Homo sapiens: one gene and its partners. The protein of the gene in region 2 interacts with the protein of the main gene of each other region in a biochemical or structural test. Each region holds a gene or a part of one and is shown on either strand. Other genes may lie near its edges. The genes, in order: MAP3K10, NEUROD1 and MAFA.

Region 1 (3,746 bases), on a different chromosome or scaffold from region 2:
CAGCAGCCAGAGGGAAAAAGGTCAATTTGATTCCCTCAGTGCCTTGCTCGCATGGCTCTGGGGGCTGCCCCAGGGCAGTTAAAAGAAAATCCATACCAGGCCAGGTGCGGTGGCTCTTGCCTGGAATCCCAGCACTTTGGGAGGCCCAGGCAGAAGAATCACTTGAGGTCAGGAGTTGGAGACCAGCCTGGCCAACATGGTGAAAACCCCATCTCTACTAAAAATACAAAAATTAGCCAGGCATGGTGGTGCAGGCCTGTAGTCCCAGCTACTTGGGAGGCTGAGGCAGGAGAATCGCTTGAACCTGGGAGGCAGAGGTTGCAGTGAGTTGAGATCGCACCATTGCACTCCAGCCTGGGAGACAGAGCGAGCGTCTGTCTCACCATGGAATACTATGCAGCCATAAAAAGGAACGAGATCATGTCCTTTGCAGGGACATGGATGGAGCTGGAAGCCATTATCCTCAGCAAAATAATGCAGGAACAGAAAGCCAAACACTGCATGTTCTCACTTATAAGTGAGAGCTGAGCAAATAGATCACATGGACACAGGGAGGGGAACAACGGACACTGGGGCCTGTTGGGGGGTAGGGTGGGGGAGGGAGAATATTAGGAAAAATAGCTAATGCATGGGCTTACTACCTAGGTGATGGGTTGACAGGTGCAGCAAATCACCATGGCACACGTTTACCTATGTAACAAACCTGCACATCCTGCACACGTACCCCAGAACTAAAAACAAAAATTAAAAACAAAAAAATCCATACCAAAGGTGTCAAATGAAAATTAAAAAAAAAAAAAAAAAAGAAAGGAAAATCCAGACTCTTATCCTGCTCTCAGGGCCCTGCCTGATCTGACCCCTGAGAACTCCCTGATCACAAAACCTATGTCCTCCTCCCATTCACTCTGCTCCAGCCAAACAGGTTAACAAGCAGCCCATGCTGTTCTCACCTCCAGCTTTTGCCTTTGCTGCTCCCTCCGCCAGGGGCATGCTTCCCTGAGGTCTCAGCCTGTCTCACTCAGCAGGAAGGTCCCTGCTCAAACCTCACCTCCTCCCATAGGGCTTCCAGATGGAAAATCGCAACCCTTCTGTGATGGGTAATTTTATGCGTCAACTTGACTGGGCCAAAGGACGCCTAGGTAGCTGGTTAAACATGATTTCTGTGAGGGTGTTGCTGGATGATTAGCATTTCAATCAGTGGACTGAGTAAAGAGAGATCATCCTCGCCAATGTGGGTGGGCACCATCCAATCCACTGAGGGCCCAGACAGAACAAAAAGAGAGTTAGCTCTTTTTGTCTAGGAAGGCAGAGGAAGGGTGAGTTTGCTCTCTGCATGAGCGTGGATATCCATCTTCTCCTGCCCTGAGACACTGGACATTGGTGTTCAGGTTCTCAGGTCTTTGGACAATTTTTTTTTTTTTTGAGACTGAGTCTCACTCTGTCGCCCAGGCTGGAGTGCAGTGGCACGATCTCGGCTCACTGCAACCTCCGCCTCTCAGGTTCAAGTGATTCTCCTGCCTCAGTCTCCCGAGTAGCTGGGATTACAGGCATGCGCCACCACGCCTAGCTAATTTTTGCATTTTTAGTAGAGACTGGGTTTCACCATGTTGGCCAGGCTGGTCTTGAACTCTTGACCTCAGGTGATCCACCTGCCTCGGTCTCCCAAAGTGTTGGGATTACAGGCGTGAGCCGCCGTGCTGGGCCAGGTCTTTGGACTTGATTTGGAACTACATCACCGGCTTTCCCGCACCTCTGGCTTGCAGAAGGCAGATTGCAGGACTTCCCAGCCTCCATAATCGTATGTGCCAATCCCTCATAATACATCTATTTCTTTTGTTTTTGTTTTTGTTTTTTTTGAGACGGAGTCTCGCTCTTTCGCCCAGGCCGGAGTGCAGTGACGCTATCTCGGCTCACTGCATGCTCCGCCTCCCGGGCTCATGCCATTTTCCTGCCTCAGCCTCCCGAGTAGCTGGGACTACAGGTGCCTGTCACAGCACCTGGCTGACTTTTTGTATTTTTAGTAGAGACGGGGTTTCACCGTATTAGCCAGGATGGTCTCGATCTCCTGACCTCGTGATCCGCCTGCCTCGGCCTCCCAAAGTGCTGGAATTACAGGCGTGAGCCACCGCGCCTGGCCTTTGTTTTTGTTTTTAAGTAGAGATGGGGTCTCGCTTTGTTGCCCAGGCTGGTGTCGAACTCCTAGGCTCAAGCAATCCTCCCACTTCATCCTCCCAAAGTGCTGGGATTACAGGTATGAGTCATCGTGCCCAGCCAATACATCTCTTTCTATATATCTAAACATATGCTGTTGATTCTGTTTCTCTGAAGAACTCCGATTAATACATCTCCTCTTTTATTCCCTTCCCTGAGCTCCTTTAAAGAACTTATCACTACTAGAAATTATCCTGCGCCCGGGCGCGGTGGCTCATGCTGTAATCCCAGCACTTTGTGAGGCTGAGGTGGGTGGATCACTTGAGGTCAGGAGTTCGATACCAGCCTGGCCAACATGGTGAAACCCCCATCTCTATTAAAAATACAAAAAATTAGGCAGGCGTGGTCATGTGTGACTGTAACCACAGCTACTCGGGAGGCTGAGGCAGGAGAATCGCTGGAACCCAGGAGGCGGAGGTTGCAGTGAGCTAAGATTGCACCACTGCACTCCAGCCTGGGAGATAGAGCGAGACTCTGTCTGTCTCCAAAAAAAAAGAAAAAAAAAAAAAAGAAATTATCCTGCTTACTGACTTATTTGTTTACTATCTGTTTCCTGTGATAAGAATGAGGAAAAGGGCCTTGTCTGTCTTCTTTCTTGCTGTTACTCTGGCTTGGTGCCAGGTATAAACATCGTGCTAAAAAATGTTTGTTCACTGACTGACTGACTGGTCAGGGCCTTGGGAGATACTCACGGCGAATGGCCCTCAGCCGGGGGATGATGCTGGGGCTTGCAGGGGGGCTGGCCCCATCGGATCCTTTCCGCTTATCCAGAGTTGGAGAGGCCTGGACTGTGATCTTATGCTCAAAGCCTGCAGAAAGAAAGAGAAGCTTTCCTAAGCAAATGGTTCCAGGGATTACCAAAGGGAATTTTCTTCTGTAGAAGTAGAGAAGGAATTCTAGAATGGGAACACCGCCATTTTTCATTCCTTAATGCAGTGGTTCTCAGAGTGTGGGCCCCAGAACAGCAGCATCACCATCAGCTGAAAATTTCTTGGCAATGCAAATTCTTGGGCCCTCCCTGAATCAGCAAGTTGGGGTGAGGCTCAGCAATGGACTGTGGTTTAATAAGTACAAGCACAAGAGCTCTTGTGGATCAAGGACCTAGGCCTCAGTGTCCAATATGGCCGCCAGTAGCTACGTGTAGCAGCTGAGCACCTTGAAATGTGGCTTGTGCAATGGGGGAATTGGAGTTTAACCTTTATTTATCTAATTTTTAAACTGTATATATATATATATATAAAGGATGAGTTCTCACTGTGGTGACCAGGCTGGTCTTGAACTCTTGGCCTCGAGCAATCCTCCAGCATCCGCCTCCCAAAGTGCTGGGATTACAGGTGTGAGCCACCATGCCCAGCCAACTCTTTATTTTATTGTAATTACCGCAATTTGAGTTTAAATTTTAAAAACAGGTATGGGGGCTGGGCGCGGTGGCTCATGTCTGTAATCCCAGCACTTTGGGAGGCCGAGGCAGGCGGATCACGAGGTCAGGAGATTGAGACCATCCTGGCTAACACGGTGAAACCCTGTCTCTACTA
Region 2 (3,746 bases):
CAGATACGCCTTCAGCTTCCACTCCCTAAACCTGTACAAATGCTTGCGAAAAGTACCTGCCCATTACAAAATGAATGCCTCTGAGAAAAAGTTAAATGCAGTGTTTTATAATGGCGCGTGCGTGTGCCCCGCTAGTACGTAGGAGTGAGGACAGGACTGGGGGAGGGTAGTGAATATGTATATGTGTACACCACTCACGCATATGTGTTTGTATCCTAGTGATTAACTTAAATGTGTTTATGGTGGTTGCCCGACAGGATAATGTGTGTGGAAATGACTGTACATTTCAGCGACTTCATGTTTATCCAAATGTGTTCAAAGTTACTCACAACTCCATAAAAAAAAAAAAAAGCTGTAAAATCACACATTCTACTTCCATTTCTGTCCTGGCTTCCAGATACTTAGCGATTTAAGTTGAACAGCCATTGCGTAATTTACTAATACTGGCAGCGATTTTTAAGAAGATTACATCGACGGGATACTGAAAAGCAAATGCAGAAAGGAGGAAAAATAGTTTCCACCAAATTGTTTCACCATCAATGTAACATTTGGCAACAAAAGTGGACAGGGTCTTCCACCCCTCCCTCGCCTTTCTTTTCTTGCCTTCCATCTCTGGCCCACCGCTAAATTTCCACCTTGTACAAAAGCGCTAGCTGCAGGGCGAGGGCTGGGGGCGCGGCGCAGAGCGCTCTCCCACGCGCCGGGGATCAGGTGCGGAAGGCTCCTCTCTAATAAACAGCCCATTGAAAGGGCCGCCCGCTCTTTATTGGGGCTTTTCAAAGTTCGCCTCAAACCTCCCTTTAAAAGATTGAGTAATTATAATGGTCAGCGATTGGCAACCGCGAAGTTGCCGCTTCTAGTAAGGAAAATAAAAAGCCTTTAGTAAAACAACTGAATTTCTGGCTCCAGTAGTGGCTGCTGGGGACTTGGCCGCCTCTGGAGCGGTAACAGGTAGCAGGAGTGAGTCCCTCTCCCTTTCTCCACTTTCCCCCCTCTCAACTAAACTATCTCTGAACCTGATTTATTTTCCATGGTGTGAATACTCAAGGTATCCATGTCCCTTTCATTCACTGAAAACACAGCTTGACACTCCCAATGTGCGTAAAATACATGCACACAAAATATATATTGATAACATAGATTTTTTTTTCTTACTGTAAGAAGTGAGAAAGTGAAGTCATTATTGCTTTTGGGACTTTAAAATCAGCACTAGCAGATAATCATAGTTACCGTGCATTCTTTTAAAAAATCCAAGAAGCTCCTATGCTATCCACAAAAGAAACCCAAATTTTTAAAATTTAAATTAGAAAGCCTGCAGGGGGTACTTGAGTGACACGACTCATTATGTGTGAGTACTTATGGGCAATTATGGAGGGGGATGCTGGTCTCAATACACATACACACTCTCGCAAACGCACACATACAGAATATGTAGGTTCATCAGTCTTCAGTTATTGCTTCTATTCTGGGGCAAAAAAATGAAAGAACTGTAATTACCTTTGTTGTTAGTAGGTCCTGAGCAGTGATAGTCTCATAACCCTGGGGCCTCCGGACGCCGCGCCTCCTGCGTGGGCGAATTCCTCGTGTCGTGGCCGCGCGGGCGCTCAGGTTATATAGCCCAGTTAGTGATGCTAAGCGCGGGCGGGGCCGCTAGCTGAGGGGCTAGCAGGTCTATGCGCCTGACGCCTGCGCACGCGTCCAGGCTGTGCGCTCCCCGTTCTCCCCTCCTCCCCACTTCTCCCCACGCCTTGCTCGTCTCCCGCCCTCCTCCGACAACCGCTCCCCTCACCCTCCACCCCTACCCCCGCCCCTCCTCCTTCCTCCCCGGCATGCGCCATATGGTCTTCCCGGTCCAGCCAAGAGCCTGGAACCACGTGACCTGCCCATTTGTATGCCGCGGAGCGCTCCATTCCGGCCCCTTTGTGGCCAGAAGAAAGTGGCCCATCTGTCGCCAGTTAGAGACTCCGCGGACCTGTTTTTACCCGCAGGAGAGATTAACCCTTTCAGGCGGCAGAAGGGACGGGGATAGAGGGGGGAGGGGATTTGAGGGAAGGAAGGGAAAAGCTAATGTTAACTAGGTCTAGATCAGAGCGAGTGGCCTGCTTTCGCGCCGGAAGTAGGACAGAGGTGAAAGAGGCAGAAGCGGGGAGACTGAGGCACGCAGTGAAGAGTCCTCGCTCCTTTCGATTTCTTGTCCTGACACTGGCATCCAGAGCAGCATGACTCCTTGCCCTCTCTGAAAGGCCCATCCCTTGGCTTCTTCTCCTTGGCAGACGCTTTGATCATTGGCGCCAAAGGATGGCTTCTCCTAATCTCCGTCGGCCCCTCTAAGCAAACATATACGCCATATAAAAGCGGCTTCATCTGTAAACGCAGCGTTGAGATTAGTTCCCCAACCTCCCTAACCGGATCGTCCTCTCCCAGTTCCTTCAGTACAGAAAAGTTGTACCTGCCATTCTATCCCTACCATACGTGCAATTCTTCATGTCCTGACCTTCAGCTACGACTGTTCCTCCAGACCCTCTCACTACGTCAGTCCCCACCTCCATCCCCAGGATCTTGTCCTCAAAGCGAGCTAGTTCTCGCGAGGAGGCCTTGGTTCCATTGGCCTTTGCGCTCTCTTATGTGGGAGCTGGGGACTTCTTTGACGGTTGTATTCTGCCTTTTAACCATGGCCACTGGGTTGCTGGAAAGGGCACCCTCACTCAGCCAGTCCAGGGACGCTTCTGGTTCCCTGGCCAGCCCGCCCTGGACGGCCTCGGCTCTCTAGTCCAGGCATTGACCACAAGTACGGTGGTGGACACCTCGCCACAGCCGGACCTGCGCTCTTGCTCCCCTCAGTCTCGGGTCTGTATAAGATACTTGATTCAGACAAGCGTTTTCAAAGAGAAGATGCAATGGGCCTGTGCTGAACGGGTCTTTCCGATCTCTTTCTAGAAACGCCTTTAGCACAACCCCGGAAGGATTAATGGCTGCGAACTCCTCCAGACTTCAAAGCCTCTGATTTGAAACTCCCAACTTGAAGGTCAAGCAAAGACCACAGAAATTCTCGACCAGTTCTGAAGGAGCCATATTGTTGCCCAAATAGCAATTCTTTACTCTTTTCGAACAAGGGTTTTCCAGAATAATAGATTTTAAAAAGAAAGAAAGAAACTGGCCTGTCTACTCGTTCTTTCCCAGCTTTGCCTCTAATCCTTCATTAACTAACTCCTTACCCCCTCCCAGACCTGAAACCCTCTGCAATAAATACCTCTTACGTGAATTGCTTATTTAAAGGCAATTGCACTAAACATCCCTCGAGTTTGCAAACAGCGACAGGGTTGAGAGGCTGGATTGGGGTGCATCTGGGAGAGGGTGGGGACGGGAGGAGAGAGTAGGGGTAGAGGAAGAGGGTCCTAGCCAGATCCCCGGTGTCTGAAGGTAGCAGGTGCAGCCTTCCCTGCACAGTACTAATCTAAAAGGGGAAGAAAAGAGTTGTGCCACCGAAGCGTGGCGTGAATCGTTGTGGGGTTCTGGAGTTTTGCTTGCTTTTCTACATTCACTTGGCTGACAAAGCGCATAGGGGAGGATAAAATAATTCACCCAGGAGCCTGGGCCCAGGATTTACCCCTGTACTGTCTGTATCTTCAGTGTTGGGCTAAAACTCGAGGGCGTCGGAGTACTAGCCCTTAGAAGATAGTACACAGCCCGACGTTTGCGGCAGGGCCAGGTTAAGTACTGCCCCTCACCCGGCAGCTGCCCCGACT
Region 3 (3,746 bases), on a different chromosome or scaffold from region 2:
AGACTTGGCACCGGGGCCAGCACGGCCGGGCCGGGCCTGGTGTCCACGTCCTGTACCGCGGAGTCCGAGCCGAGGCCCCGAGAGGCCTGCGCGAACTTGTCCCCGGCGACGGCGGCGCGGGCTCGGGGTCCGGCGCCTACAGGAAGAAGTCGGCCGTGCCCTTGGCCCCGCCGGGACCGGCCTGCGGCGGCGAAGGCTCCCGCGGGAAACCGGCCCCGCCCGCGCTCCCGGGGCCGCCCCGGCCCGCCAGCTTCTCGTATTTCTCCTTGTACAGGTCCCGCTCTTTGGCCAGGCGCCCCACCTCCAGCTTCAGCTGCTCCACCTGGCTCTGGAGTTGGCACTTCTCGCTCTCCAGAATGTGCCGCTGCTGCACCCGCTTGAAGCGGCAGGACTGCGCGTAGCCGCGGTTCTTGAGCGTGCGCCGCTTCTGCTTGAGCCGGATGACCTCCTCCTTGCTGAAGCCGCGGAGCTGCCGGTTCAGCTCGCGCACCGACATGGACACCAGCTGGTCGTCGGAGAAGCGCTCCTCCAGGCGCACGTGGTGGCCCGCGCCACCGCCGTGTCCCGCGCCGCCATGGTGGTGGTGGTGGTGGTGGTGGTGGTGGGCGGCGTGGTGATGGTGGGCGGCGTGGTGCGCGCCGTGGTGGTGGCCGGCGCCCATGTCGTCCGCTCCGCCGCCGCCCGCGAAGCCCGGGCCGCGGAAAGCCTCGTAGGCTGCGGCGGCCGCCGGGTGGTGCGCGCCGTGGTGCGCGCCGTGGTGGCCGCTGCCGATGAGCGCCTCCACCGCGTCCTCGGGCGTCAGGTTGAGCGCCTCGGGGTTGAGGTGATGCTGGTAGCCGCTCATCCAGTACAGATCCTCCAGCGCCGGCTTCCCCGAGGTGCCCCCGACGGCGCCGGGGCCCCCGCTCGGCGGCCCGGGGGCGCCCCCGGCCTGAGACGAGCCGCCGCCGCCCCCCGCGCCGCCGCCGCCGCCGGTGCCCGGGCTGGGCGCGCAGAAGCTGGGCGAGGAGGGCACGGAGGAGCAGGGCGTGCTGAGCGGCGTCGAGGACAGCGAGCCTGGCGGCAGGCGGTGGCAGAAGCGCTCGGCCTCGGGAGGCTCCTTCTTCACCTCGAACTTCATCAGGTCGAAGTCGTTGACGTACTCGATGGCCAGCGGGCTGCTGGGCAGCTCGGCGCCCATCGCCAGCTCCGCGGCCATCGCCCGGGGCCCGCGCCCGGCCGCGCCCCGACGGGCGGCGTGGGAGTGGGGGGGGAGCTGCAGGCCTCTCCCCCCCCTGCTCCCCGCGGGCGGCGGTCCCGGCGGGGGCGGGGGGGCGCCGGCGCGGGGCGGCGGCGCCGAGGGGCGCAGGGAAAAGTTTCACGTGGTCAACTCCGGGGCGGCGCGCTAGGGGCACCGCTGGCCAGGTGTCTCGGGCGACCCCGGGCCCGCGTCGCCGCCTCCTCCCCGCGGCCGCCGCCTCGGGCTGCTCCGGGACCGCTCCCGCGCCCCACCCGCGCCGCCGGCCGGCCCCGCCTCCCACGGCTAAACGCGAAGCCGCGCGCGCCCCTTTATAGAGCCGGGTGCCTGGGCCCGCCTCCCCGGGAGGGGCGCGCGCCCCCGGGCCAATCGGAGCCCCAGCCCCGCCGCCCTCATTTGCTTATCCCCATGGCAACTCAGAGCCCAGCTGTCAATCTCCTGCGGGAAACAGCTGTGGGAAGAGGTAGGGACGGGCCGCCGGCTAGAGGAGAGGGCAGGGCCCTCTGGTGGCCATCACGGGGCACTGCACGGGCAGAGGGCGCGCCGCCTCAGGGGACAACTGCCGTCTCCAGGGGCCTCAGCTCCCACACCCGGCGGCCGGAGAGTCCGGGGAAGCAGACGGGGACCGCGCCCGGGGACCCCCTCGGGGCCTCGTCCGCCTCGGGCCACGCGGCGGGACGCCCCCTCGGCCCCCTGGGTTTGCGGCCGGGCCTGGGGGCCGGGGGCAGCTCCGCTAGCGGCGGCGGCGGCGGCAGCGGGACCTCCGGGCCTCTGGACACGGGTGACACCGCGCGGCCCGGCAGAGCGCGGCGCGCTGAGCCGGTTATTTTTAGCCCGCGGCTCAGACGCGTTCAGGAATTTGGTCAACAAAGTTGCCGGCACCTCCGGGCACCGGGAAGCACGGGGCGGGCGGAGGGGGACACACGCGTGCGGGGCGGCGCGAGGGGCCGGGGACGGAGGGCCGGCTTGTGGGGGGCCGCGGAGAGCGCAGGACTGTGGGGGTCGCGGGACAACGCGGGTGGGTGCGAGCGGCGGGGGCGGGGCCCACGGGCTGGCAGCCCCTCAGGGCGTTAGGAATCCCCGCCCAAGCGGCCACCACTGCCCACTTTCGCCCCCCGCAGGGCTGGAGGCGCCTTGCTGGGCCTGGAGTGGGACGGGGGGTAACTGAGACGGGAAGGCGGGGATTTCCACCTGGCGGCCGTGCACCTGCTGGGAGGAGACGGCTCCGGTTCACGGGGCAAAGGAGGTGACGATGGGCGGTGGGCCTGTGACCCCAGGTCCCCGACACCAGCGAGCCGGGTGATGGGAGGGTTGCGCCAGGAGTTACAAGGCCGGTGACCCGAAGTGGGCCTATTGTTTCTTCTCGAAATTCTCTCCATTGCTGTTCTATGACTTCAGCAATTTAAAAAAAAAAAAAAAAAGTCTAAAATGTAACCACCTGTGTAGAGAAAAAAAGCCTGGAAGGAGTTGCGCAGAGGCCACAGGGAGGCCTGGTCACGGCGCCGCAGATTTAGTACCAGGCTCTCACCTCCTTCCCTCTACAAAGATCTATTGTTTTGTAACAAGAAGACTGTCATGAAGTGAGGACTGAACATCTGCTTCCTAAGGTGTCTCGGGGTGTCCCTGGCCCTTCCCTGGGCCCTCCCACTCCTCTGGGCAGAGCTGGGACTGCTGATTTGGGAAGACCAGGCCTTCCTCCCCGCAAGGGAGGGCCAAGGACAGCATGAGGACCCACCTGCAGGGACCCCTCTCCCCCGATCCTGTCCCAGAGGGGGCTCTGAGCTCCCCACCCTTCTACAGATGAAGAAATGAAGTGGGCATGCAGCAGAGCCAAGTCCCCACACTGGGTACCTGGACTTGAGACCACACGAGTGGTCAGCCAGCCAGGGGTGTGGGGTTTCCTTTATGGCACCCCGTGTTGAGAGGGAGGCCCGGGAAGGGAGGATGCCGCCGCGCAGTGGAGCTGGTGGTAGTCCAGGTTGTCTGCACCTGCAGCCCCAGGAGAGGCCTTGGGGCTACAGGGCCCTCCCACGGCCCCTCCAAGGGTCTAGCAGCATTTCTGGGTACCACACCCTGGAGGCCCTGGGGCACACTGGAAAGGGGGTTGAGGAGGAAAGAGAGAGTGTTTGCACCGGGCTGTGTCCCCACTGTCCCCCCCTCCCGCCCATCGCACTGTGGCTCCTGCCAGGCCAAGGAGACCAGGAGAGGGTGTTTGGTCACCAGCCCAGGAGGACTCCAGCACACCCGTGGGAATGAAGGAGACGCCTGACCCCAGGCTGTTGCAGTGGGAACCTTCCCCGGGGCCACAGCTGTGACCTCAGGCTGAGGGACGCTGACCCCACAGCCATGCTTGGACTCAGTGGCACCCCCATCCCGCCACCACCCACAGGAAGCCTAAGTGCCTCATCTTGCTCTGAGAGGTGGGAGAAGGTGGTGGAGGCTGGGGTGGCCTCAAAGATTGACCCCAACCCATCCGCCCCAAGCCTGCCAAGCCCTCCTTGAGGCTTGG

The links.
Region 1: of the proteins of NEUROD1 (region 2) and MAP3K10, one has a biochemical effect on the other in vitro, tested with the Homo sapiens proteins (one study listed by BioGRID).
Region 3: the proteins of NEUROD1 (region 2) and MAFA form a complex in vitro, tested with the Homo sapiens proteins (one study listed by BioGRID).

The regions. Positions count from the first base shown.
Region 1 is NC_000019.10:40,208,377-40,212,122, reverse strand, and holds part of MAP3K10 (mitogen-activated protein kinase kinase kinase 10), read right to left. Parts: intron 3,021-3,746; coding exon 2,904-3,020; intron 1-2,903. UniProt on the Homo sapiens protein: Activates the JUN N-terminal pathway.
Region 2 is NC_000002.12:181,678,933-181,682,678, forward strand, and holds the start of NEUROD1 (neurogenic differentiation factor 1), read right to left. Parts: upstream 1,586-3,746; 5' UTR 1,498-1,585; intron 1-1,497. UniProt on the Homo sapiens protein: Acts as a transcriptional activator: mediates transcriptional activation by binding to E box-containing promoter consensus core sequences 5'-CANNTG-3'.
Region 3 is NC_000008.11:143,429,209-143,432,954, forward strand, and holds the start of MAFA (transcription factor MafA), read right to left. Parts: upstream 1,525-3,746; 5' UTR 1,199-1,524; coding exon 137-1,198; 3' UTR 1-136. UniProt on the Homo sapiens protein: Transcription factor that activates insulin gene expression. Acts synergistically with NEUROD1/BETA2 and PDX1. Binds the insulin enhancer C1/RIPE3b element. Binds to consensus TRE-type MARE 5'-TGCTGACTCAGCA-3' DNA sequence.